Homo sapiens: one gene and its partner. The protein of the gene in region 2 interacts with the protein of the main gene of each other region in a pairwise test. Each region holds a gene or a part of one and is shown on either strand. Other genes may lie near its edges. The genes, in order: OLFM4 and KIR3DL3.

The links.
Region 1: the proteins of KIR3DL3 (region 2) and OLFM4 interact in a two-hybrid assay, tested with the Homo sapiens proteins (one large-scale study listed by BioGRID).

The regions. Positions count from the first base shown.
Region 1 is NC_000013.11:53,038,729-53,042,557, forward strand, and holds part of OLFM4 (olfactomedin-4 precursor), read left to right. Parts: intron 1-3,181; coding exon 3,182-3,394; intron 3,395-3,829. UniProt on the Homo sapiens protein: May promote proliferation of pancreatic cancer cells by favoring the transition from the S to G2/M phase. In myeloid leukemic cell lines, inhibits cell growth and induces cell differentiation and apoptosis.
Region 2 is NC_000019.10:54,727,214-54,731,042, forward strand, and holds part of KIR3DL3 (killer cell immunoglobulin-like receptor 3DL3 precursor), read left to right. Parts: intron 1-397; coding exon 398-697; intron 698-2,279; coding exon 2,280-2,573; intron 2,574-3,829.

The DNA of each region.
Region 1 (3,829 bases), on a different chromosome or scaffold from region 2:
CTCTCCCAAGACTGCACCTCCCAGGAGGAGCTGACATGTGGTCAGCATTGTCCACGCATTCCCAAAGCTACAGATTCATATATGTGAAAAGTTCATATGAATGATTTACTTAAATTAGTAAAGTTCACACTCTGAAGTCTTTCTGGCCCATCCCCAAGCTCTTTTGTGTCTTCTCTAACTCCATGGATGATTGCCATTTTCCTGAACACCACTGAGCATCCTTTAAGTGTCAGCTGAAGAACCTTGAGTTTTTTCCTCAAATGGATCTTTACAGACCCTTCATTTTGTCTGCACCAGGGCAGGCACACCACACATTTTTATAGGTAACAAACTCCAGAATATGCCTTGCTTTTTTTTGTGAAAATCTAGGAGAACCACATTTTATTTAGCAGAGATGACAGTTGAATCACTCATTTTTGTAGAACAACAGCTGCGATGTGCCACCAAAATGTTCCAGAGAAGCTGAGGGTGTTTCATTTGTTCCAAGAGCTGGCAAGGCCAAATGCCAACAAGCATATTTATTTCTCAAACTTCCATTTCTGTAATGGATTGGCACTTTATTTATTTTTATCATAGTCAAGGTTTTATGCCTGAGTTTTGTAGACACTGGAACCTGGCAGCCCTATATCTGCAGTGCACTTCTCAGGGGGACTTGTTAGGTTTTATATATAGTGAGCCCTCCATAGCCTTGGTTCCGCATCTGCAGATATAACCAAACTCAGATTGAAAAATTTCACGGAAAAAAACTAATAAAAATAACCATGTAACAACAGGAACTATACAAATAAAAAACAATACAACAATGATTTATATAGCATTTACATTGTTTTAGGTATTATAAGTAATCTAGACTTGATTTAAAGTATTTGGGAGGATGTGTGTAGATTGTAGGCAAATACTGTACCATTTTCTGTCAGAGTCTTAAGCATCCTTGAATTTTGTTATTCTTGGGAGGTTCTGAAACCAATCCACCATGGATACTAAGAGGTGGCCGTATATATGTTTTAACCTCCCTATCCACCAAAATATCACCAGCTTTGTCATCCTCCGAGTTATGGTACATCCAATGGCAGTGAGCATCAGTTGCCCGAGGAGATACACTAGCAGTGCCAAGGACTGTTTTTTCGACTTTCATTAAAATCCTTTTTGCCTGAAGCCCTAGCCCTTCAGGTCTGTGGTCTATGAGTCTACTTTAATTTGCACAATGGGGTTAAGTGGAAGGGCTGAAATGACAGAAGTTAGGATTGCTTTTGGTATAAGAAGGATTAAAGGCCAACATCTGGCTCTAAATTCATCCAGGCACTGTGGATCAGCTACTTGATATTAGTGTAGTTTTGGGAAAAGTATCACTTCAGTTCAAATTTTTAAAAAGCATATAAAGCCAGCAACTTATTTAATGAGCAGGTCCTTAAAAAAGCCATGGCATTTTCTTTAGAGATCAGACACAGAAAGAACCACCAACTGTGTTTATTAAAATATCCACTTGGATATTCCAATTATACACTAAACTGCCAAGGGAATTTTTGGAAGTATTTTAACTTAATGATCAGACATTCAAATATATGCAACAAATCTGTAATTTAAAGGTCTGATTGCAATAATCAGTTCTTGGAATAAATGTGGGTGCACTTAATGAAATGTGTACTCTACAGGGCACACACACTCACATATTGTGTAGTAGGTTGGATCTCTATGCCACTTTGTAAAAGGCAGAGGGGATCAAAACTAATTGTATATGGCGATCAAAGAAGGAATTCGGCATAGCGCATTTCTCCCTTCTCCAGAAAATACTTAGATGTAGAGCCATGTTTCTAAATGGAAGGAGGGTGGTGTTGGCCGTGGCAACGATTTTGTCCCCAGGGAACATTTAGCAATGCCCAGAGACATTTTTGGTTATCATAACTGGAGAGTGGTTGGATGCAACTGGCATGAAGAAGCCAGGGATGCTGCTTAATATTGTGTAATTCACAGCACAACCCCCACAAGAAATGACAATCCAGTCCCAAATGCTAACAGTGCTGAGGTTGAGAAACAATTAGAGTAAGTGTGTTGAAGGGAGGAGAGATGGCAAGAGACTATGATACAAACCAGTTTAGTTTGGGGAGTTAATGTCTTCAAACATTAAAATGGAGATTAAGAAAAAAGGGCTCAATATCACTTGATCATTAGAGAAATGCAAATCAAAGCCATAGTAAGATACCATCTCATACCAGTCCAGAATGGCTATCATTAAAAAGTAAAAAAATAACAGATGCTGGTGAGATGGCAGAGGAAAGGGAACATTTATACACTGTTGGTGGGAGTGTAAATTAGTTCAGCCATTGTGGAAAGCAGTGTGGTGACTCGAAGAACTAAAAAGAACTATTATTCAACCTAGCAATCCCTTTACTGGGTATATGCCCAAAGGAATATAAATTGTTCTACCATAAAGATACATGGGCGTGTGTGTACATTGCAGTACTATTCACAATAGCAAAGACATGAAATCAACCTAAATGCTCATCAATGGTACACTGGATAAAGAAAATATGGGCCATATACACCATGGAATACTTTGCAACCATAAGAAAGAATGAGATCATGTTCTTTGTAGGAACATGGATAGAGAGCTGGAAGCCATTCTCCGAAGCAAATTAACACAAGAACAGAAAACCAAATACCACATGTTCTCACATATAAATGAGAGCTAAATGATGAGAACACATGGACACAAAGAGGAGAACAACAGAAGCGTACTTGAGGGTGGAGGGTGAAAGGAGGGAGAGGAACAACAACAAAAAAATCTATTGGGTGCTAGGTTTAGTACCTGCGAGACAAAATAACCTTTACAACAAACCCCCATGACATGAGTTTACCTATATAACAAACCTGGGTATATACCCCTGAGCCTAAAACCTTTTTAAAAAATGGAGATTAAAATATACCTGCAAATGATGATGCTGAAGCAAAATTATGTTTAGCCTAGCAAAGTATAAAATCTACCTCCCTTCAATTGGAGTAATAAGTTCTTTGTATATGGATAGATTTTAAAAATCTAGTTAAATGTATTTTTGATCTATTTATTTACAAAACACAATGATTGGCAAGAATCAAATAGTTCTCAACTCAAGGGCTCGGTAGTGGAAGAAGATGGTGTGATACTACTCAGGGAATTGGCTTGAACCTTTTGATTTTCTTTCAGGTGAGGGAATATGTCCAATTAATTAGTGTGTATGAAAAGAAACTGTTAAACCTAACTGTCCGAATTGACATCATGGAGAAGGATACCATTTCTTACACTGAACTGGACTTCGAGCTGATCAAGGTAGAAGTGAAGGAGATGGAAAAACTGGTCATACAGCTGAAGGAGAGTTTTGGTGGAAGCTCAGAAATTGTTGACCAGCTGGAGGTGGAGGTAAGGAGTGAACTCACTTCTTGGTAAATTAATAATAAACTCCCTTCAGTGACTGTAAGCAAGTACTAGTACCAGGAAGTGAAACTATCTCTTCCAACTTCTAATTCTCTACTGTCTCATGGCCACATGGCATATCACTATGTTCTGTTTTGGATAAGGGCATGTGTTTGAATAGTAAGTTAAGCACATTGGGAATGTGCTGACTTAGGAGCAGATGTTGTCTAATGGTCAGAATCCTGCCCCAGAATAAAATGCCCTTTCAACTTCTCTGAAAAGGAGCTGGCATAAAGTTGAACAACGGTTCATGGCCAAGCTATATGAGGTGTCTTCTCTGCTCTAGATTTATCCTCATGGAACTAGAAATCCACAATATACCTGATTGTGGTAAAATTGCTAGGTTTGTTTCTCCTTTTGAATAACCTGGAATCCTTCTCT
Region 2 (3,829 bases):
TACTGATGAGTTCGTACCTCCTGCCGGCCTTTCCAATCTGTCCAAAAGAGATTGATTCAGGCTGCTAAGAGCCTGGACATGCAGCCTGTCATGGTTCCTCTTCCACCCCCACATAAACACCAGGAAAGAGATTAGTGGGAAACAGATACAACAGCCTAAGAGGTGACACTGAGCACAGTGGGAAGGGAATCAGGGCTACTAGAGACAGAGAGACAGGGAAGAGGGAGGGAGACAGATGGAGGGACCTGCAACAGGGGTTATGGGCACAAAAGAACACGGAGACACAGACAGGAAGGAGAGAGATAGACACCATGGAGGGGAAGCCTCACTTATTTCAGGTCCCATGAATGGGATGAGAAAGGGAGACGCCTTCTGAACTCACAACCTCTCTTCTTAGGAGTCCACAGAAAACCTTCCCTCCTGGCCCACCCAGGTCCCCTGGTGAAATCAGGAGAGACGGTCATCCTGCAATGTTGGTCAGATGTCAGGTTTGAGCGCTTCCTTCTGCACAGAGAGGGGATCACTGAGGACCCCTTGCGCCTCGTTGGACAGCTCCACGATGCGGGTTCCCAGGTCAACTATTCCATGGGTCCCATGACACCTGCCCTTGCAGGGACCTACAGATGCTTTGGTTCTGTCACTCACTTACCCTATGAGTTGTCGGCTCCCAGTGACCCTCTGGACATCGTGGTCGTAGGTGAGAGAATACAGACCTGCCTCTCACCCTTGCTGGGAGATGGAGTGAATGATCTAGGACTGGAAGCCCCAGGTGGTCATGAGGAAGATGAGTGTGGGGTTCCTATGGAGAGAAAGTGACTTGGTGAGGTCTGTACCAACAAAGGCAGAGAAACAGGAGACACAAGTACAGACCTCATGTCATAACATAGAAGCCAGACACAGGGGCCATACAAGGTGTTAGAAAAAGAGATAAAGAGGTAAAGAAGACACAGAGAGACAGACATATCCCAGAGAGAGGTGTCCTTCTATGCTGACTTTGTTCAGAGACCAGGCACAGGTTAGAAGGTTCCATTCTGTTTTACCTCTACAAAGTGTTCTCTCCCAGGAGAACCCAAAGAGACACATCTATCTGGCCTGAGTTGGGCCATGTGGCCCCAGGCTGGTGGCACCTACAGATGTTGTGTTTATTCTTAAACCTCTGCCTTCCGTGCAGTGGAGCTGTCATCGTCCCAGGACACCATGGCCCCAGGTGAGGGAGCAGAACACCAACCCCTGTATGCTGTGAGTTCCTGGAGTCCCCATACTGGATTCTGAGGCTCATATTCAAATAGCACCACATGTTATAGGATTACTGAGAACAAAAGCCCACAGAGAGACACGGAGTGAAATCAGGGAAATCAAAAAGCAAAGACATGAACACACACACAGAATGAGCCAGAAGAAGGGAATTGAGAGACTCACAGACACATAAAGAGATAGAAAAAGAGGGCAGAGAAGTGGAGCGTATGATGGAAGGAAGCAGAGAAAAGCCCTAAAATCAGAGCCCTGAGGGAGGGGCACAAAGACAGGGAAAGATAAAGATGTGAGGATGGATTGCAGAGACTCCAAAAGGGAACTAGAGAGACTGAGAGGCAGAGAAAGACAAGGAGATGGAGAGAGACAGATGATAGATGGACAGATAGATATAGATAGATGAAAGATAAAAGGTAGATGATAGATAATAGAGAGACAGGTGATAGACAAATAGATGATGAATGACTGATAGATGATATAGATAGACAAGTAGAAAGACAGACAGATGATATATAAATAGATATAGAGAGATAGAAAGACAGATAAACACATGATGATAGATGGATAGATGCATACATACATACATTGATTGATAGATGATAGATAACAGAGAGATAGGTCATAGATACACAGATGATGATAGATGATAGATACATACATAGATAAATGATAGATCGATCAATAGATAATAGATAGAAATATGCAGAAAGTTATGAGCAAGACAGAAAGTGAGAGACTCAGAATTAAAGAAAGAGGAAGATCAAGTCAACCAGTCCAAGGAGGGTCAGAGAGAATAAAATGGTACAAAAAAAGAAAACATAGCTAGGGATGGAGAAGTGAGGTCAGAGACCTAGAGAGACAGAGAAGGTGGAAGGAGGAAATAGACATGAAGAGAGATGGGGGTGGAGGGTGAGAGAGAGAAAGAGAGCATTAAGTCATAGAGCAGGGGAGTGAGTTCTCAGCTCAGGTGTGAGGAGAGCTGTGACAAGGAAGAACCTCCCTGAGGAAACCACCTCTTCTTCTTCCAGGTCTATATGGGAAACCTTCTCTCTCAGCCCAGCCGGGCCCCACGGTTCAGGCAGGAGAGAATGTGACCTTGTCCTGCAGCTCCCGGAGCTTGTTTGACATTTACCATCTATCCAGGGAGGCGGAGGCCGGTGAACTTAGGCTCACTGCAGTGCTGAGGGTCAATGGAACATTCCAGGCCAACTTCCCTCTGGGCCCTGTGACCCACGGAGGGAACTACAGATGCTTCGGCTCTTTCCGTGCCCTGCCCCATGCGTGGTCAGACCCGAGTGACCCACTGCCCGTTTCTGTCACAGGTGAGAAAACACCATGCCTGTCCCATGTCTTGTGATCCTAGAGCCATAGCTGAGGAGCTTCCTGCTGATGATGGAGAGAAGCATGGACAGATGCCGAGACAGAACACACAGCATGGGTGTAAGGGCGGGGTCAGGGCGCAGGATGGCAGACAGGGCACCTCCAAACCCTCCTGTATGGCCTGCAAGGATGCCCTTGATCAGGGTTCCAGGCACCCAGGCAGATGGAGAAAGAGGTCAGAACAGACCCAGAGGAGGGAGACTGGGCTCTGCCTGGGGAGATCAGAGGTTCTCTCAGCCCCTCAACCTTACCCACTTCCCAGAAGCCCATCCTGGCCTGTCACCCACAGAGAGATGTCATCACCAGCAACGCCTACACCCTTTTCTTTTTGTTTGAAGAAATATTTATTGAGGTGAAATATACCTATGTAATTTACCACCTTTACCATTTTTAAGTGTGAAGTCTACTGTTCATAAATACATTTATAGGCTGGGCACGGTGGCTCACGGTTGTAATCCCAACACTTTGAGAGGCCAAGGCAGGTGGATCATTTGAGATCAGGGGCTCAAGACCACCCTGGCCAACATGGGGAAAATCCATCTGTACTAAAAATACAAAATAATAATTATAATGATAATAATTAGCCGAGCATGGTGGCACATGCCTGTAGTCCCAGCTACTTGGTAGGGTTGGGCAGGAGTTGCACTTAATTGCAGGAGGCGGAGGTTGCAGTGAGCTGAGATCATGCCACTGCACTGCAGCCTGGGCAACAGAGAGAGACACTCTCTCAAAATTAATTAATTAATTAATTAGTATTCTTTTTTTTTTACCCTCCACCCTTCCCTTCCTGGCCTCTGGTAGCCACCATTCTACTCTCTACCTTTGTGAGATCCACCTTTTAGCTCCTGCATATGAGTGAGAAATGGAAATACTTGTAATGACCTCCAGTTCCATTCATGTGGCTGTAAATGACAGGATGTTACTCTTTCTATGGATGAGTTGTCCCTATTGTGTGTGTGTACCACATTCTCTCCATCCATTCACCCACTGATGGGCAGGTAGGTTGATCCACATCTTGGCTACTGTGAACACTGCTGGAACAGTCATGGGAGTGCAGATGTCACTTCGATACGCTGATGTCCTTTCCTTTGGGTTTACACCCAGTCATGGAATTGCTAGATCCTCTGGAAGTGTCTTTTTACATTTTGTTTTATGGTTTTTGTTTTTGTTTTTGTTTTTTTTAGACTGTTTCACTCTT